4 separate regions of the Homo sapiens genome follow, and all the other regions are linked to region 1. Evidence: fine-mapped expression QTL. A gene starts in region 1. Each other region holds a variant in brackets. All regions are shown on one strand. Distances are from middle to middle.

What was found.
Region 2: its variant is fine-mapped to the expression of PUM2 in whole blood (TOPMed, PIP above 0.99).
Region 3: its variant is fine-mapped to the expression of PUM2 in whole blood (INTERVAL, PIP above 0.99).
Region 4: its variant is fine-mapped to the expression of PUM2 in whole blood (TOPMed, PIP 0.92).

Annotation. Positions count from the first base shown.
Region 1 is chr2:20,347,920-20,353,067 of GRCh38, reverse strand. PUM2 (pumilio RNA binding family member 2) reads left to right here and starts at 2,224. Exons shown (of 21, transcript NM_015317.5): 1 at 2,224-2,471. RefSeq lists enhancers at 865-1,494, 1,702-1,791, 1,495-2,126, 2,127-2,756 and a silencer at 1,952-2,841.
Region 2 is chr2:20,222,109-20,227,256 of GRCh38, reverse strand. SDC1 (syndecan 1) reads left to right here and starts at 2,127. Exons shown (of 5, transcript NM_002997.5): 1 at 2,127-2,455. The coding sequence starts at 2,390. RefSeq lists enhancers at 800-1,479, 1,480-2,159, 3,919-4,425, 4,426-4,933 and silencers at 1,711-2,090, 2,151-2,570, 2,611-2,670, 2,691-3,150, 3,561-3,760. The variant C/A (reference allele first, on the strand shown) is at 3,254.
Region 3 is chr2:20,258,395-20,263,542 of GRCh38, reverse strand. PUM2 (pumilio RNA binding family member 2) reads left to right here. Exons shown (of 21, transcript NM_015317.5): 14 at 83-350; 15 at 3,077-3,206. Among named protein-coding and RNA genes, the nearest start is that of SDC1, 36 kb to the right of the region's middle. The variant A/TTA (reference allele first, on the strand shown) is at 2,013.
Region 4 is chr2:20,246,059-20,251,206 of GRCh38, reverse strand. PUM2 (pumilio RNA binding family member 2) reads left to right here. Exons shown (of 21, transcript NM_015317.5): 21 at 1-2,470. It also overlaps the pseudogene RNU7-113P. Among named protein-coding and RNA genes, the nearest start is that of SDC1, 24 kb to the right of the region's middle. The variant T/C (reference allele first, on the strand shown) is at 2,407.

The DNA.
Region 1 (5,148 bases):
TTTAGGCACCCCCCAGGCCTTGTTCAACTGCACAGGTCACGTGCCTGTGCTGAAGCTGGCCTTGTTCATGGGGATATCTGGAACATTAAATGAGACAATGTATGGAAAGTGCTTTGGTGCTTGCATGTTGTTAGTACCAAACAAATAACTATAGCTTACACGTGGCTTTTAGTAGGACTCTTGGTTGTAACAGAAATTCACTTTATCTAGCTTAAGCAAAGAAGCAGAATTTACCATAAGGATCCAGGAATGCGGCTCAGACTCCAAGGGTAGAGGCAGCCAGCCAGGCACAGAAACATGTGAAAGAGAGACATTGTCAGCACTCTCCTTTTCTCTCTCAACTCCACTCTTTCTCTACAGGTTCCCTGTCTTACAGGATGGAACCAGTCTGCCCAAGGGATCCCAGGTCCAAGAGACTTTCGAGGTTGGGGTCTCTTAGTCCCAATTCCATATTCTAAGGGAGGGCCTGTGATGGATTTATCTAGTTTCACCCACACTAAGCAACTGTATATAAAGACTCTTCTGCTATTATCAGCTCAACGGAGGGGAAAGGAGAAGGAAGGCAAAATGTGTACACCCCAGCATCTCCCATTCTTACTTGATCGTGAGACATTTCTTAAAGGAACATCTATTAACACTGAACACAGCACACTAGGGAAATGCTGTCGTGGGTGATGGGGAGCAATGAGATGGTTGAAGCAGAGGCCTGAGCGCCAGGAATTGGATTTGCATTTTAGATAGCAGTGAGCAGAACTGATTGGAGGGAGTGAGACTGGAGACAGGAAAGCTGATTAAGAGCCAGCTACAGAAATCCAGACCTGGGAAGCAAGGCTAGCATTAGTGAGGAGGCAGAGGAAGACTGTCTCCAGAATTACTTGGGAAGTAAAAATCTGCGAGGCTTGGTAAGTTATTTATATTTGGAGTCGGGGTAAGAGGAAGAGACAAGGATGGTTCTCAGAGGTGTAATTTGGGGAATGAATAGGTGGTGACACTGCCAATTACAGAGACAGTACAAGAGTGGGGGGTAGGGGATGGGTGTGACTTCAGTTTTTAACATGCTTGGTGACAAGAAAATTCAAGTGAAAATATCTAGAAGCCTGAAATATGAGCCTAAGGTAGGGGCTTGGGATGGATTTCAATGTCAGACATTTTTCAGTAATAGTTAAAAACCGAAGAGCCCATGTGTATTCAACAGGCACTTGCGGGCACAGTGTGAAACAAAACACAAGGTCCTTGCCCTCGTGGAGCTCACAGTCGCCTAGGGAAGACATATATTAAGCAAACTATACGGGAGGCCCTGAATATTTACGAAGTGCAGCATGTCAGGAGAGCCAGGAGCTGTGCAAACAAACCATCAAGAACAAATCGGACACGGTGCCTGTTACAGCTGTGTGACCTGGAGCCGGTTAGGTTAGAATCCTGGAATCACCACTGCTTTGCATGGGGGTCCAGGACAGCAAGGCAGATTTGGAGTTTCCAACTAGCCTGTAAACGGGGAAGGAGAGAGCGCTTAGTACGCGAGAAAAAGAAACAGCCAACGAGTGAGAATCACTGGCCCAGCTGGAGAACGACCTGAGTTTCCTTTGTGTGCACCGGGACCAAGCACTGGGGGCCGACAATTTGCTGAGAGCTGGCTCCACCTGCCTGGGGTGCAACCACGAGAAGAGTGACAGCCCTCTCGCAGGGTACAATCTTCCACCCCCAGATGCATCTCCCTCGTCTGGTTGTGGGGAGGTACAGAGTGAAAGTTAAAGGCCTGAATTAACGTCCGGCTCTTGTGGGCGCCAGCACTCTGGAAGCGAAATGCCAGGAGTACCCCACGGTGGGCGGCGCGGGCGCAGACACCCGCACACCCAGTTGGGGGAAAACAGTGAGCAACCGGGTAGGAAGCCGAGGGTAAGAAGATTCAGAAGGCGAGGCCCCACGCGGGAAGACAGTCGAACACAGCGTTTGGCAACAGTACGCCTGCGCTCTCCGAGCCCGCCGCGGCGGAGCCCAGGAGGGAAGCGCGAGCCCGCAAGGTGAGGGCGGGGGAGGGCACGCCGGAGAGGCGGCCAAACACGTGAGAGCGCGGAGAACGTGCGCACGCGCAGGGCGCCCCCGGCCCGCGCGGCGGCAGCGCGGGAGCAGGGACGCAAGGCATTAAAAGGAGCCGCGCCTTGGTGAGCGCTCCCCCTCCCCTTTCTCCCGGGGTGCACTGCGCGCGCCCGGTGGGCGGGGGGGAGGGGAGGGCAGGCGGCGGTGGCAGCCATGTTGTTGTGAGTCTCTGTGTCTCACCCTCGGTACTTCGGTGGTTCGGAGGAGGAGGGGGAGGAGAAGGAGGAGGTGGGGTGGGGGGGGAGGGTGGTAGGTGGAGAAAGAAGACATTGCCGCCACCGAAGGCGGAGGAGGGGGAGGACCGCCAAGAGCGACGCCGCCGTGTGCCCAACGGTCGGTGTCCCCGGCTGAGGCAGCGCGGCCGCAGCAGCCCTGTAAGTCAGTCCGCGTTCGCTCTTTCTCCGGTCCTTTGGCGCCGTCGAGGATGGCTCCCCAGGCTTTGTGCGGCGGCCTCGGCGGGAGCCGATCGCCAGCGGGAGGGCGGATAGGGCCTGCTGAGTGCCCGGGCCGGTGCGGCCTGGGGCCCGCTCGCACAATGCAGGGGGAGGGGTGCCGGAAGGGGGTGTGCGCGTGCGGGGGAGGGGGCGCCGCGCCGGCCGCTTTCCCGCTTCCTTCCCTCTGCGGGGCCGCCGCCTCGGGGGCGTGGGGCGCCGACCCGGTTCTCCCTCCGATTCGGCGCGCTGGAGGTTAGAGACCGAGCTGTCGGCCCTAGGGTTCGGAAAGAGGGGAGAGGCCGGGTGGCCCCAGAGAAGCATGCGGATTGCAAGTGGGTGAAGAGGAAGGAGTGGGTTTATGAAAACAAGTGTGGGCATTTTCAAAGGCCCGAGTGTGTCCGGGAAAAGCTTGCCGTGGACAGATGTGGGTATGAAGCAGTGACTTGGATTCGCCTTGTTTAGGTTATAGGAACGGATTTCGATATTCAGAAAAATATGTAAATTAAAACCAAAGACAAGATTAGCGGCTTCTACTATTTGAGCAGTAGTTTTGTATCTGAATTGGGTCAGGTTTTGGGGAAAATGTTTAAAGTTTCATGCCCAAACACGTGTAAAAGTTAGTGTTGTTTCTGAAAACACAGCCAGAGAAAACCTACTTAACTTAGCTTTTTATTCTAACATACGTAAACTTTTGAAGAGAGGAATGTATTGCCAGCATATTAGGTGCAATAAGACATCATGTTAGGACTTAGTACTTTGAGATTTTTACTTGTTGAGAAAACGGGGCAGATGTTTTGGTGAAGGAAAACATGAGAAAAATGCTTGTAAACGGTGAAGAGAAATGTAATACCTGTAAAGGTACTGTATGTCAAGAAAACAATTTTAATAAAGGGAGTTACCGAAGGATTTTAAAAGCTTGTTTAATGGTTAGATTTCGTGTTTAACAGGTGACTCTTCACCATGTGACCTGGAGTATTGGAAGATGACTTAAGGAATCCTGTAAATAAAAAAAAAAAAACAAAAATGAGTATTTTCAACTTGTTTCTCTTCCTAGCCTCCTTTTAAACAATGATTTACTTCATTTGCTCAATCATTATGAATAAAAATGATGGCATTTTCCGTGCTGCAAGAATTTCTTTAAAATTCCGATTTTTGGTGAAATTGCATTGTGTAGAATTTTCTTGGTGTGCATGAGGGCAGTTTTTGTATGCAGAAAAGGTTTACGATAATCTTAAAAATAAAATTTTATTTCAGAAACCTGGTTCTTGAGGATTTAAGTCCAGTTTTTAAATTTTGTTTACAGGTCTAGCTATTTTGAGTTATAATTGCCAGTAACTTACGCATTTTCCAGCAATTTAAGCTGTGTTTAACACATGCTTTCCTTAATTTGAGTCCAAAGTTCTCTTAGGTGTTTCAGCATTTAGCAAGATTTCAACTTTTTAAAAGAGCCTAAATTAATTACTGACATTTACTTTGCTCTTACAAAGCTGTCACTTTAGAATAAATTCTCAGGCATTACAAATACTGTATATAAATTACCAAATAATACTTGGATTTTGTTTCTCTCAAGCATTCCATACTTGTTTATGAATCTTTTTTTCTTGTTTGAGACAGGGTCTGGTTCTGTCGCCCAGACTGCAGTGCAGGTGGTGAGATCTGGGCTCACTGCAGCCTCCGCGTCCCGGGCTGCAACTGTTCTTCCACCTGAGCCTTCCGAGTAACTGTAGCTGGGGGTACAGGCGCACGCCACCACGCCCGGCTAATTTTTGCATTTTTTGTAGAGACAGGGTCTCACTGTGTTTCCTGGGCTGAACTCCGATCTCAAGCGATCCTCCCGCCTCGCCCTCCCAGAGTGCCGGGATTACAGGCGTGAGCCACCACACCCGGCTTGTTTATAAACCTTTCTGGTGTGGAAAGATAATTTGCCTTCCGGAGTAGGTACTTATCTTAGTTAACAAAAGTAATTATGACCAGAGATTTGGGCCAGGTGTGAAATCCACAGCCAATTTTCTCAGTGACCAAGCTGTCTCCTTTTTATAGACCCTAACATGATCTGCATAGTTTTAAGTGGAGGTTGATTCCTGTCTCCTAAACTCAAGTTCTACATACGTCCTAACTTAAATACCTTGTTGGGTTTCCAGGATATGGAAATACTTGTATTTTTTCATATTCTTAAAATTTACAGATATTTAAAATATCCGAATATTTGAGTCTCACATGGCTTTGTCTACATGGCTGCAATCACAGCTTGAGACCATTTTACTAACAGGTGTGATTAAGATAAAAATTACACTTATAGCCAGGTAAATTGGTCTGTGGCATATTAAGATTTCTTGCTTTTTTTCTTTATTATTATTATTATTATTATTAATTTTTAATATAGGTGAGGTCTTGCTGTGTTGCCCAGGCTGGTCTCAAACTCCTGGGCTCAAGCAGTTCTCCCGCCTTGGCCTCCCAAAATGTTGGTATTAAAAGCATGAGCCCCGGTGCCAGACCCTTGCTGTTTTTAGGAAATGCATTAAAATAGTCTGACTTGTTCGTTTTGTCCTGCCTCCTCACTTCGCTTTGATGAGTTTGTAAGAGGGAACGCTGATGAAATATGGCAGAGCCCCTTCCT
Region 2 (5,148 bases), 130 kb after region 1:
AATTCCTGAGAAAGTTGAAGATGTTTATACCTATAATCCAGAGCTCTACTTCTAGAGAAAGCCTCACACATGCACTCAAGAAGACAAGTATAAGGGCCAGGCACGGTGGCTCACGCCTGTAATCCCAGCGCTTTGGGAGGCCGAGACGGGTGTATCACCTGAGGTTGGGAGTTCAAGACCAGCCTGACCAATATGGTGAAACCTTGTCTCTACTAAAAATACAAAATAAATAAATAAATAAAAAATTAGCCGGCCTGTGGTGGCGTGCGACTGTAATCCCAGCTATTTAGGAGGCTGAGGCGGGAGAATTGTTTGAACCCGAGAGGTCGAGGCGATTCTCCCTGCCTCAGCCTCCCGAGTAGCTGGGATTATAGGCACCTGCCACCATATCCGGCTAATTTTTGTATTTTTAGTAGAGATGGGGATTCACCGTGTTAGCCAGGCTGGTCGAGAACTCCTGACCTCAGGTGATCTGCCCGCCTCGGCCTCCCAAAGTGCTGGGGTTACAGGCGTGAGCCATCGCGCTTGGCCGTGAGTGACTTTTAAAAAATGAAAAGACTCCATCAAATCCTCCCTGACCCCAGTTTCCTCTGTTGTGAGCAGTAGAGAAAGGTAAGATTCCAAAATTCCTATTTTTCCACCATACTGGGTTGAAGGGATCTGTGGAGCCACCCTCTGGTAGAGGTAGAACCTTCGAAAAGGGCATTTTTAATCCACAGGGACTCCTCGAGCTCGGCTGGACCTCCGTGGTGCCGTGCTGTGAGACCATCCATCACTCAGGCACTCAGCGAGCCCACATCGGCCCCCAAGAACCCTGATGAAGGTCTTCCTGCCCCCTAGACAGACTTGGGGAGACGGACACCCCAAAAGCGAGAGCTCTTTGAGGTCAAACAGGTGCTCAGGAGCAGGGGTACAAGCAGGCCATCATCTTTTAGTGCTGTGAGGAGGAGTGGGGGGATGAGATGGGGACGCAGGAGGCTGCTCGGCTCCAGAGCCTGCTCCACGGTGGAAGGTGGAGGAGAGTCCAGGGTCCCACGGTCAGTCCCTGCGTGGCCCAGGAAGGTTTAATTCTTTTAAAGAGGAACACTGGACACTTCCCGATATTTTCTTGGTCCCCAGCTCAGGCCGACCCAAGTTCTTGCCTTCCGCCTAGGGAAGACAGGGGAGGACGACGCCATCTTTGGTCTCAGGGCCCAGGTGCGAAGGTCGTTTGGCACCATCTCTCCTGCCTGCCAGATGTGGGCAGGGCCCGTCCGGTTCTTCCCCTTTGCTCTCTCGGCCGTTTCCCCTACACCCGCAGGCCTTCCACAGCTTTTTGAACTGAGGCCCAGGGCCTCGCAGGGGATCTCGAAGGAGCAGCAACTGCACGGTGCTCCTCAGATCCGCGTGCCCGAGGTCACCGGGGAACAAAGAAGTTACTTATTTTTCCTTTTAGCTCAGATGAAGAGAGAGGGCGTTGTCTTCCACAGAAAAACGCTGCGAACTCCGCCCCCGTCCCCCTTTTTCTTGCAGCCCTTCCGTGCGGGTGCAGCTGTTTAAACTAAGGCCCCAAGTCTCCAGCACTTTGTGGAGTGCAGGAAGAACGCGAGCGTACGGGAGAATCTGGGCCGGCGGGGCGCAGCGAGCCGCATCGCAGCTGGAGGACAGCCGGGGTGTGTCTGTGTGTGTTTGCCCGTCGGTTGAAGGCCCCATCGCCCCCGGGTCCCCGCCCTGCCCCAGAAAGCGTTCCCCAAGAGAGCTAGGAGTCCTGCGCACCTGGAGCGCGCTCCGCGTCCACGCCCAGAGGGCGCTGCACACTCGCGCCCGAGGACTGCCTGCCCCCCTTCAGCCCCTCTCCCGGGCTGCGCCTCCGCACTCCGGGCCCGGGCAGAAGGGGGTGCGCCTCGGCCCCACCACCCAGGGAGCAGCCGAGCTGAAAGGCCGGGAACCGCGGCTTGCGGGGACCACAGCTCCCGAAAGCGACGTTCGGCCACCGGAGGAGCGGGAGCCAAGCAGGCAAGAACCTTAGGAGCGGGCCGGGGGTGGGGCGTTCCGAAGGGGCCGGGAGGGGTGGCTGGGGGGCGGGGTCCTGGGGGGTGTGGACTGGGGCTGGCCGGGAGACCTGGCGGAGCTGGGGGTGGGGGGCCAGTTTTTGCAACGGCTAAGGAAGGGCCTGTGGGTTTATTATAAGGCGGAGCTCGGCGGGAGAGGTGCGGGCCGAATCCGAGCCGAGCGGAGAGGAATCCGGCAGTAGAGAGCGGACTCCAGCCGGCGGACCCTGCAGCCCTCGCCTGGGACAGCGGCGCGCTGGGCAGGCGCCCAAGAGAGCATCGAGCAGCGGAACCCGCGAAGCCGGCCCGCAGCCGCGACCCGCGCAGCCTGCCGCTCTCCCGCCGCCGGTCCGGGCAGCATGAGGCGCGCGGCGCTCTGGCTCTGGCTGTGCGCGCTGGCGCTGAGCCTGCAGCCGGCCCTGCCGGTGAGTGCGGCCGGCGGCCAGGCGGGGAGGCGGCGGGAAGCCGGGACTGGTCACCCGCGGATGCCGGCGGGTGCACGTGGAGGGGGAGGGGGAGCGAAGACTTCCCTTCTTCCCGCGCTAGCCCAGCGGGTCCCGGGACGGTGAGCCCCGAGACCAGGGCTCCAGCCCCAATTTCCTCCGCTGTCGGTGGGTGCCGCACCGGTCCCGCGCTGGGGAGGGTGGGGGGCCGGGGCCCCGCGCTCAATTATGTAAAACGTCTCCACATCTGTCGGAGCCCGCCAGCCCACAGCGGCGCCCGGGGTCGCCCGTTCCCACCCTCCTCGCCCCGGCCACCGCGGCGGCCGGGCCCCCGTCGGTGACCCGGGGGGATGCAGTGACCGCGGCCACAACGCCCCCCCTGCAGACCCTAATTCAAACCAGACCCGCGGGCTTGCGCCCCAGCGCCGCCGAGCCCGGGCGCCCCGCCCCTTGCGCCAGGGCAAGTTTGGGCGCAGCGCGGCCGGCGCGGGAGCGGGAGGCGGCCGCGTTGGCCCGGGGAGCCGGGCCAGGGCTGCGTGGGGGGCGCGGGCGAGCGTCTGCAGGGCCCTCGGGCTTGCCGTGGGCGGCTCGAGGTGAGCTGAGCCGGCCCGGCAGCGGGAGGTTCCGGGAAGTTGGCCTCGGAACGCTGGAGACCCGGAGGAGCCCAACTTCTGGGCTGCTGAAGTTGAGCTGGCCCCGGAGGGCGCGTTCCCGTGCCGGGCACGGCCGAGGCGCAGGCGCCTTCCACGCGAGGGGACCCGGGAATGGCCTCCCGCTCCC[C/A]GGCTCGGCTTTGTGCTGAAGCCGCGCGGAGGGAAGGCGGGTCCCTTGGCCCGCCCAGTGCAGCTGGGAGAAAAGAGGGGCAGATGTGGAGCTCGGGGCTGTAAGAGGCCTTTGGGTGGGATGCAGCATCCACCTTCAGCGGGGCTGACGCTCCACTAAAGAGGGACGTGGCCGACAAAGAGCAGCCTGAGGGTCCCCAGAAAGTGGCTCTCCCGCCCCGGCCACCGGCCGCTAGCCCGCCTTCCCCAATGGGGGCGCTTTGTTCTCGGCCCCTGTAACCCTTTCCTGGGAACAGCCCCGTAACGCCGGCCTTGACGGGGGCTGGGACCTGGGCCGCAGCCAGGTGTCAGCGCGGGCCGCCCGGTGCCCGAGTCTGCCGCCCGAGTTCGCCTCCCCAGCCCCCGCGCCCGGTGCTGGCGTCCCGGGGTCCCTCCTGCGGGCCGGCTCGGCCATCCCCAGGGATGCAGAGGGGAGGTGCGGAGCCAGGGGCGCTTCCCCTTCCGGAAGTGGCGGTGTCTCGCCACTACATCTGGACAGTTCGACTTCCCCAGCTCTGGCAAAGGGAGGCACGTGGGCAGGGAAGGGGCGGGGGCGGGGTGGGCACTCGGGTTCTCCACTGCTAATGTGGCATCTGGACAAGTCTCAGCAGCGCTGACCCTCCGTAAGCGTTGCCTCGTGTAGTAGCTGCCAGTTATTGAGCGCTTTGGTTTTTTTTTTCTTTACAGAGTCTGTCTCATGGGAGATGAGGTAGGGACAGTCGTTTCTGAGACCGATGTGTAAAGCGCCCTCCCTGCTTCCCAGGTGACTCGTGCTTCCAGACATTTTCCGGTCCAGGAGAGGTCCCTGTGCCTATTGAACTGTGAATGGGCTGGACTGTGAGGGGTATCTGGGAGCACGGGGAGGGCCATGATTTCCGAGCTGGGTCTCATGCACTCCTGGCTTTCAGGTCCAAGAAGCTGCTCTCTAGGGTGGTGGTTTCTGTGGAACTGAGACTGTGCTTGGAGTCTTCGCTCCGAGTTTGGAGAAGAGAATGGAGCTGGGTGCCTTACCTCCCTGGACCGCTGGGCATCACCTCACTGCCCCATTCTCGCACATGATGGGGCCTCAGCAGGGGCGGCTGAAGTTGGGTCCTCCACCTATTTCCGGCTGGATTTAGGAGGGCTGCTGGTTCCCTTGCCTGCCTGGGGTAAAGCAGACATTCCAGAGCCCTGGGATCCCACCGCACCCGTTAATGCTGGGGAGGCAGGTGGAGTTTGGGCTTCCCCGTGAACTGCCTTTCCTGGAGTTTTCTGTGGGCTGGGGCAGATGCTGCAGTGTGAGGCATTATTTCTTGCCCAGAAACTTGGACATAGGGCCCAGGAGGCAGGAGAGTCTCAAAAGGGGAAAGGAGGGAGACTCCCTGGAGCTGCAGGGAGGGAAGGCTTCCTGGAGGAGGTGCTTGAGCTGAGCCTGAAAGCCCCACCTGAGCTTTGGGGTCAGACTCTGGCTTGAAGCTTAGGTGTTCTTTTTGCTTTTTCTGATCTTACAAAGATTAGTTTGTTTTCTCTTTCCCAGTTCTGCCCTCTTCCTCTTACAGTGAATGTCCATGTTAGGTTAAAGGTGGGGGCATGCACTGCCTTCCCAAAGCTCTGATACCCCTTTCCTAAAAGAAATCAGGCAGCTGGGATTTGCTTTAAGATGGGAGAAGGTATTTGCAAGTGGCAGAGATCTGACCCTCTCTGAAAGTTCACTCTGGCCCCAGTGGGAAGCAGGTCAGAAACCCCCTGGGGACCAGGGAAGCAAGGAGTGACTGAATGGGTGAGGGGAGGCTGCTAGGAGAGGAGGTTGCTCAAAACCACTCCCAAGAGACTAAAACAGGTTTGTCTAAAAAGGTTTCTCTCTCTCTTTCTCTCTGT
Region 3 (5,148 bases), 90 kb after region 1:
ACTGAATTTGTAGCTAAAGTAAATTTTATTTGAGGAATAACTTTGTCAAAAATACTTGCTGACCATAGCTGCTTTGTTGTAGGAGGACTGACAAATGGTAGTGGTCGATATATCTCTGCAGCACCTGGAGCAGAAGCAAAATATCGAAGTGCTTCAAGCACTTCCAGTCTATTTAGCTCCAGCAGCCAGCTCTTTCCTCCTTCCCGGCTTCGGTATAATAGGTCTGATATTATGCCTTCTGGCCGCAGTAGATTATTGGAAGATTTCAGAAACAACCGCTTCCCAAACCTTCAGCTTAGAGACTTGATTGGACATATAGTTGAGTTTTCTCAAGACCAGCATGGTTCTAGGTAGGTGATTATGATATTTCTCACTTCATTTTTGCTTTGAAAATTGCTGCCTTATAAAAGCTTAAATTTTTCTGGACTTTAGTCTGCATTAAAGTTGGAAGCTTTTAAGAGCTAAAATTCAATATGGATTATATGTTTTTTCTTTCATGTTAGGATAAATTATAAAAATACGGGTTTTAATTTTTTATAGTTTTCCAGTTTTTTACAGTGAGAATATTGTTATGATGAGAATATAGCAGGGCCCCCTCCATTGGATTATTTTGATTACATCGGCTCTGTATTACATTTGTGGGCTTAAGTGACCCTCATGGTGTGTTTAAAAAATATAGCAAACAATGTTAAATGCCTTTGTGTTGCATTATAGGTTGGTATTCAGTGTGACTTGGCTTAGACTGAAACATTTCACATTTGTTATAGGAAAATTTGGTGCCTTTTTACATTAAAACGAATGTAATACATGAGAGATACATCTGAATTAACATTGTAAAGATAGCTTAGAAAGGAAAATAGAATTGTAACACATTTGATAAATTTAAGATATTTTCTCTCTTTATAGCTTTAAGGTAAACCTCAAGTTTTTAAGTCATTTTAGATTAGATGGTGTACAAATTTTGTCTCCCTATACAGTCATGCATCACTTAATGACGGGGATACGTTCTAGAAAATACGTTGTTGTGTGAACATTAAAGAGTGTACCTATGCAAACCTAGATGGCATAGCCTACTACACACCTACTCTGTATATTGCGCCTAGGCTGCAAATCTGTACAGCATGTCACTGTACTGAATACTGTAGGCATTTGTAACAATGGTATTTGTATACCTACGCATAATAAACAATAGAAAAGATACAGTTAAACTATAGTATAAAAGATTAAAAAATCATATGCGTGTGTAGGGGACTTAATGTGAATGGAGCTTGCAGGACTGGAAGTTGCTCCGGGTGAGTGAGTGAGTTGTGAGTATATGCGAAGGCATAGGACATTACTGTACACTCCTCTAGACTTTATAAACACTGTACACTTCAACTACACTGAATTTATTTAAAACTTTTTTTCTTCAATAATAAATTAACCTTAATGTAACTTCTCCCCACTTTGAGACAGGGTCTTACTCTGTTATCCAGGCTGGAATACAGTAGCATGATCATCACTCACTGCAACCTCAACCTCCTGGGCTCAAGCAGTCCTCCCACCTAAGCATCCCGAATAGCTGGGACTACAGGCACGCACCATCACACCTGGCTAATTACTTAAAATTTTTTTGTAGAGACAGGGTCTCACTGTGTTGCCAGGCTGAGCTTACTGTAACATTTAAGCTTTTTAATTTTTTTTAACTTACTGACTTGTAATAACACTTAGCTTAGAACAGAAACACATTGTACAGCTGTACGAAAATATTTCCTTTGTATGCTTATTCTATGAGACTTTTTCTGTTTACAGATTTTTTAAACTTTTTGTTAAGAACTAAGACACAAATGCACACATTAGCCTATACAGTGTAAAGATCATCAGTTTCACTTTGTTCTAACTCCATGTCTTCTTCCACTAGGAGATCTTTAGCAGCAACACCTATGGAGCTGTCCTCTCCTATGATAACAGTGCTTTTTCTGGAATACCTTCTGAAATCTACCTGAGGGTGTTTTACTTTTTTTTTTTTTTTT[A/TTA]AACAAGTGGAATACACTCTAAAATAACAATAAAAAGTATACTAAATACACAAACCAGTAACTCAGTTGTTTATTATCAGATACCGTACACAATTATATGTACTACACTTTTTTTTTTTTTTTTTTTTTTTTTTTTGGAGACAGAGTCTCACTCTGTCGCTTAGGCTGGAGTGCAATGGCATGATCTCGGCTCACTGCAACCTCCTCCGCCTCCTGGGTTCAAGTGATTCTCCTGCCTCAGCCTCCTGAGTAGCTGGGCTTACAGGCGTCTGCCACCGTGCCCAACTAATTTTTATATTTTTGGTAGAGACAGGGTTTCACCATGTTGGCCAGGCTGGTCTCGAACTCCTGACCTCAGGTGATCCACCCACCTCTGCCTCCCAGAGTGCTGAGATTACATGCGTGAGCCACTGCACCCGGCCATACTATACTTTTATAAACTGACAGTGCAGTAGGTTTATGTCATCATGAACACCTGAGTAACGTATTGCACTATGATGTTATGACAGTTCCTACCCAATAGGAATTTATCTCCATTATAATCTTATGGGACCACCATTGTATATGTGGCTTGTTGTCAATTGAAATGTGGTTAAGCAGTGCATGACTGTAGTTGGTAGTTCCTTCAGAGTAACAAATGAGCCTTGTGTCACCCAGAATGGCTTTCTTGCTTAGGAATTCATTCATGTTGGATGAATTTTACTTCTAAGGGTTTCCTTTATTATGTTCTAAAAGTTAGATGTTTAGTAATACATTGTATATTATGAAAAATAAATGAATAAGCAGCAAAATTTACGTAATTTTCTTATTGATTATAATGTAACCAACCTAAGAAAGATTAAACATCTTTATATCCAGGTTTTTTGTCACTCTATCTTTAGATAAGGTGTTATAAAGAAATGCTATATAACTTTTGTCCTTTTTGCTGTAAGTTAGCTGTCTACTATATAAAGTATGGTAATATTTATGGAAATAACTTGCAGTGCATATATGTGGAAGGGTAGGGTGTAATACTCAAGTGTATTAAAAAACATATTGTCATATTAAAAATGTTCCCTATGTAGATTCATACAGCAAAAACTAGAGAGAGCTACTCCAGCTGAGCGACAGATGGTATTTAATGAAATTCTGCAAGCAGCCTATCAATTAATGACTGATGTTTTTGGCAACTATGTTATACAGAAGTTTTTTGAGGTAAGGATTCATGCATATTTGTATATCCGCCCATCCAGCTGTTGTATACTTGATGCTAAGAAAAGCTCTGAAAGTTGGGTAAAGTCATTTTCATATAAAAAAAGATAATAAGCCAGGGATAAGATATTTACAAATTATATATGCGGTAAACATTTTATCCAGGATATATTGTAATGAACTCCTAAAAAGTCAACAACAAAAAGACAACCCAAATGACAAATGGACAAAGGACTTGCACAGACATTTCTCTATGTAAAATAATACAAAAGGCCACATAGGCCATGAAAAGATGCTCAACATCCTTACTAATCAGGGAAATGCAGATCAATCTCACAATGAGATACCATTTTATACCTACTAAGATGACTGTAATCGGAAAACATAAAATCGGAAAATAACAAATGTGGATGAGGATATGGAGAAATTAGAGCCCTCATAAATTGCTGGTGGAAATGTAAAATGGTGTAGCTGCTATGGAAAACAGTTTGGCAGTTTCTCAAAATTAAATATTGAATCACCACACAATCCAGCAATTGTACTCCTAGGGGTACAATTGAAAGCAAATGAATTGAAAGCAGGAACCTGAACACCAGTATATATTGCACCATTATTCACGATAGCCAAAAGGCGGAAACAGCCCAAGTGTCCGTCAACAGATGAGTAGATAAATACAAGTGGTATATGTATACATTATAGAATATTATTCAGCCATAAAAAGGAATGACGTTCTGATACATACTACAACATGGATGGACCTTGAAAATACTAACTTAAGTGAAACAAGCCACACACAAAAGGACAAACATTGATAGTGATCTACCAGTATGAAATGTCTAGAATAACTAATAGTGGCATAAAGTAGATTAGGGGTTACTGGGCCTAGAGGAAGAAGGGTTTAGAAAGTTACCATTTAATGGATACAGCATTTGTGTTTGAGGCCACGGAAAAGATTTGGAAACAAATAGTGATAGTGATGGTGGTTGCACAACAGTGTGAATATAATTAATGCTACTCAATCACCTAGCTAAAAATGGTTCAAATGGCAGTTTGTCACAAAAAAAATTTTAACATGAACCACTTTAAATGAAAATTTGCTATTAATCCTGATTCATATTTGAAAATATAAAGCATTGGTAGTCAATCTTTGGTAAAGTAGTTAATGAATAACACTATAGTCTTTGGATTTATAGATGTGTGTTATTTTACAGTTTAGCCAATTTTTAAATTTATAAGCATCTGTGTTGTAGCTTAATGACTTTAACAGTTTTTTCCTCAATCATATCAGAATGTAGTTTGATGATTATCTGGGTGAAGAGTTTTGGTGGTCAACGTATGGCTAAGAAAGTTATATATTAAAGATGAAGGGTTTTGGCCGGGCGCGGTGGCTCACGCCTGTAATCCCAGCACTTTGGGAGGCCGAGGCGGGTGGATCATGAGGTCAGGAGATCGAGACCATCCTGGCTAACAAGGTGAAACCCCGTCTCTACTAAAAATACAAAAAATTAGCCGGGCGCGGTGGCGGGCGCCTGTAGTCCCAGCTACTCGGGAGGCTGAGGCAGGAGAATGGCGTGAACCCGGGAAGCAGAGCTTGCAGTGAGCCGAGATTGTGCCACTGCAGTCCGCAGTCCAGCCTGGGCGACAGAGCGAGACTCCGTCTCAACAAAAAAAAAAAAAAAAAAAAAAAAAGATGAAGGGTTTTGTAAAGATGTTCACTTTAAAAGAGTGTTTCTTTAAAAGGTAGTTAACATATTAGTAACAAGGAAATTTTAGTAAGACTTAACCCAAAGAAGTAATAAAAAATTATTATTGGAAACATTTCCCAGTCTATCTTAATTAGCTTCTACCTTAAAGCCCCTGCCCTACATAGTTACTGATAGAATGAATAGACTGCAAACACTGCCTTACTCAAGTTCAACAAAGCAATATTAAGGTCACTTGTTAT
Region 4 (5,148 bases), 100 kb after region 1:
CAGTCTGGTAGGTCTACAACCCCATAGCACAACAGGTTTATAGAGATGTATATAGAATTATAGTCCTTATTTTTTTCCTTTGCGTGAAACCTTTTATAACAGATTAACAATCAACTGCATAAATATTATTAATATTTTAAAAAGAGTTAAGTTGTATTTTGATAATTCACAAACTATCATGCAAATAACGAGTAAGTAGACAAGAATAAAGTGGTTTGAGATGAAAAGAACCTAACATTATTTACAGTAGATGTGGTTTTAATACAATTACTGCCCTAAAATGTCTCTGGCAATGTACAGAAATATTGTATATACTTACATATGTAATTGTTGTAAGAGTTAAATACAAAATCATGGTGACACTTCCAATTAAGTGCACTAAATGAAAAGTTAAGTCACTTATTAACTTTTCAGTTTGGTTTGCAATGAGAAAGAGTGGAAATTTGTATTTTGTTTTGCTTATAGAATTACAGACATGTTGAGGAAGTGTTGAGCTTTATTTTGCTTTTTCATAGAGGCAGAAAGTAGGAACCAGATAGAGATGAAAAGGGGCCACTGAAAAGTGAATTTGATAGCTCAGCATTTAAGCATGATTACATATTCAGATAGCTCTTTTTGCTTTCTATAAATATATGCATTGTGTGTGTAGTAATAGATGTAAGTTTACACTTTGAAAGGAAATCTTGTTTCAATGTTTATTATAAAAGCCTTGCTAATTTAGTAGTGATGCTTTCCTTGGTTGTACAGGTGTACATTTGTAAACCTTCATGCTGTAAATGGAATTTGTTTTATCTCTTTGGGATACATTTGCATTTTAGTGTACATTTACGTCCCTGCCCTCTTTGACCTGGCAATATAGTGTTGTATAATGTAAATTTATTTCTCCAAATCGAGAGTGATTTTTTAAAAATTTTTTATCTTTATATGGTTTCAGAAGTATGAACCAGCTTTCTTTTTATTATTGTGAGATCATTTTGTTTTATAACATAGTTGTTGACTGTTAATATGGACCTGCTAGAATTTGGATCACTTTCAATTGAAGTCAGGGTATTGTGCATAATAGAAAGTATTGGACTGAGATATTTGGTTACCATGGAGGCCAATGCTTTTTTCATCTTATTAAATGTGATGTGACTTTTTTCTTTGTACAGAAGAGTACTGTATTTTTGAATAGCCTACTCCCAAGTAAGAGCAAATCTGTATGATAACATTTTTTCCTCTGGACATAAGACATAACAGTAACACGATGTACATTTACAAGCGGCCTTATGTACATTTCCCAACAATCTTTTTAAGGCAAAATTGTGACCATATGTGTATAATTAAAATCGTTTTTAATCCTTTGCCTATGAAAATATTTTGGAAAAAAACTTGCTGTGTATATTCAGTTTCTGAAAGATAAAGAAAGTGCTTTGTATTTTGTTGAAGTCAGTATTTTGTATAAACATTTATGTTGACCCACTTATGTTCAGTGCTGAAAACTAAAATGAACATGCTATTCTGTCAGCTGAATATGGAAGAGATCTTTTTTTACTAGAGATCTGCAGAAGAAACGCAATCTTCTGAGCACAATATGGAATCTAAAGGTTTTATCACTTAGTTGTTCATATTATGAACCTAAAAATAATGGCATAAAGTTTGGGGATGCCAGGCATACTTTTTCATGTTTGGTGTTGAGTTATTTTACTTTTCTAACCCAACATTCCTTGGTGAGACCATTAAATCCAAACACTTGTCACCGTTCCTTCTCATAGTCACTCTGGGTCATCAGCATGTCCCAGTCACTGCAGCAACGCCTTGTGTTTGTTTCATTTTTTTAAAACCCACACAAAGCCGCTGTCTCACTTTTTCCTACTTTACCAACCTCAGAGTATTTCGGCCCGTATCGAACTTTTGTTCTCAGTATCAGCCCATGGTTTCAGGATCAAAGCTGTCATGTTGGAGATTGGTAATGGCTTTCCTGTCTTTGTACAGTTGAATTCCTAGTCTTCCTTCATCCTTGCCCTCTGTTGGCACAGGCATTATCTCTGCAATTTTAGAAAATGACAAGTAGAGAATACTACATTGAGAAACTAAACCCTCTTCTTGGGGTCCTGATACTCATTCCCATTTGTCCCAGTGCTGACAACCCAATCTTCCCAATACTTTCAGGCCTGCTCTACAAAAGTACCTGTTCTTGTAGAAATTTTACAGTCTGCCATTTTGGGTGCCCACCCCAATTTTTACCTTTTAGTAAGTTGGCATGAAATTTTGGTAAAATCTGAAAATCACATTTCAGAATAAAACAATTGGGCAAAACTACCTAGGCTTTACTCTTGAGTGTCTCCTTTTGATAGGGATTGTTTCTGGACCAGTTTGTCTAAGTCCTGGCTCTTATTGGTTCATATGAAATAATGTTAACTTCAC[T/C]TCTTTGTATATTATGTATAAATTAGAAAATGAAAAATGTGTGAATAACATTGTATGAAATAAACCTGGTCTTGTGTTTTTCTCTAGATAAAATACCCCTCTGTACCTCAGTTATAACTTAAGATTGATTGCCCATTCAGGTTTACTCCGACGTAAAGAAAACAAACATTTTTAACACATGGGTGCTGTTCTGGAGCCACTGATTCCTCTGATGGTATTAATTCCATGCTTTGATTAGTATTTAGGACCTATAACTGCATACTTCATAGGATAAAACTTTTAGCCCGTTTTCACATGAACTCGAGGAGGCAGTGTTGTCTAAAGGTAAACAATTTAAGTTCAGATGTGGATTTAAAGTTTACCTTATTTACACACCTTGTGAACTTTTCTAAACCTTGAGCCCTTAGTCTGTATCAAGGGATAATACTACTTAACTCATTAGTTTTAACAGTGGAGAATATACAAAAAGATAGTTAGAACCTATTTTTTTCTTTTTAAGAGATGGATTCTTGCCTTGTTGGTCAGGTTGGTCTTGAACTTCTGGCCTCAAGTGGTCTTTTTACTTTGGCCTCCCAAAGTGCTGGGATTACAGGCATGAGCCACTATGCCTGGCCAAGAACCTAATTTTTTTTTTTTTTTTTTTTTTTTGACACAGAGTCTCGCATTGTCGCCCAGGCTGGAGTGTGATGGCGCCATCTCAGCTCACTGCAACCTCTACCTCCCAGCTTCAAGTGATTCTTCTGCCTCAGCCTCCCGAGTGGCTGGGACTACAGGTGCACACCACCACACCCGGCTGATAACTTGTATTTTTAGTAGAGATGGAGTTTCACCATGTTGGCCAGGCTGGTCTCGAGCTCCTGACCTCGTAATCTGCCCGCCGTGGCCTCCGAAAGTGCTGGGATTATTGGCGTGAACCACCACACCCGGCCTGGAACCTAATTCTTAATGAATCGCTTGTTAATACCATTTCTGTTTTTCCCATTCTTTCTACAGCTATAAAAAGAAAAAAAGCCAGAACAATTTGATAGACTCCAAAATGGAAACCTGCATAAAGCTAAGTGGGAAAAAGAAATGTCACCATACACATTGTATTTCCTGAAATTTAATTTTGTCTTGGTTTGGGTCTCTTCTGAGCAACCCTCTTGGATTATTGACATACTACCTCACATTGTATTGAAATTTAAAAGGTCTTAACAAGGAAATACCACATCTTCGCACCCTGGCTTACCAACCTAAGGAAAGCAGTTTCCTAAATTCACCTGGGACTAGATGCCCTCGATGACACTTTCTCTGGAAGATTTTAAAGCAGCAGAGGACAAAGAAACCCCTAAAGGAGCCATATTCATTGTCCACCTTCCCTACCTCACTTAAAAGTACCTAGCTTAACATGCCTGGTAGAATTGCCTGGTAGAAATTAGAAAATGTGTCTATGAACAGGGAGCTGAGCAGGAAAAGAGTGCTGAGGCTTCAGGGCTCACCCCTAGGAGGCTGTTCTAAGCACTGCGCTGCAGAGGGGAGTGGGGCCAGGACTGGACTGGACCTTTGTTACTTGTAGGGTCCTATCCTGACTTTCCCACAGAACCTTGTGGCTGAGGAGTATGTTTGTTGTTTTTATTTTTATTTTTTGACAAGATCTGGCTCTCACCTAGGCTGGAGTGCAGTGGTGCCATCACTGCTCACTGCAGCCTCAACCTCCCAGGTTCAAGCAAGTTTCCCATCTCAGCCTCCGAAGTAGCTGGGACCACAGGCTCATGCTACAATGCCTGGCTACTTTTTGTATTTTTTGTAGAGATGGGGTCTGTATGTCGTCCAGGCTGATCTCAAACTCCTGCTCAAGCAATCCACCTGCCTCGGCCTCCCAAAGTGCTGGGATTACAGGCATGAGCCACCAGGCCCAGCCAACTCTTAAGCCAATATAGGACAAGACAGCCCAAGATAGCTCCTGTAGGCAGTTTCTCCAGTTTCTGCTATGTTCCATACACAGAACTTTTTTTTTTGAAAGAGCACAAAAAAATCATAACTGTACGGCTTGTTAATTTTCACAAATAAATACTCATGAATCCAGGATTTAGATCAAGAACCAGAACATTACCAGCACCCAGAAACCTTCCTGCACCCTCTTCCACTGAGTGGCCCTTTCAACCCTTACAAAGCCGGAGAGCTCAAGTTCTGGGCCCTGTGGCCTTGGTGAGCAACACCCTGGACCGATCAGAACGACCCAGTGAGTTGGGAAAACGCTCCTTTTACCGATAAACTTGAAGCAACTCATGACTGTGGCTCTGGCACCACCTCAGCGGAGGCGGAAGTGCCATAGAACTTTTAAAAAATATATTTACCAAGAATTAAAACCAGGTGAAATAGTCTTGTATTTGGTAGTTTAAGGGAAAGCAATTGGCTGGATTAAAATGTATTCAAATGTCAGTGCTCTTTTAGAATTTGTCTAGCAGGTTTTCCAGTTTTTACCGGAAAACCCAACAACAGAAAGATCAACAGAAAGATTGATTCAAACTTTCTTGGGCATCAGAAAGTAATGATTCAGAGTTTGGGCTCTAGAATTAGACTGCCCAGGTGCCAAACACTAGCTTCATATCTAGTAGGTAAGTGGTTTCATCTTTTAAGCCTTAGTTTCTTTGTGTAAGTCAAGGAAATGGTGACCTGCTGAGATTGTAAGGATTAAAGAGAATAGACCTGAAGCGCCATGGCAAGTACTCGGTACACGTTAGCTACTAAAGCAACTCGTGC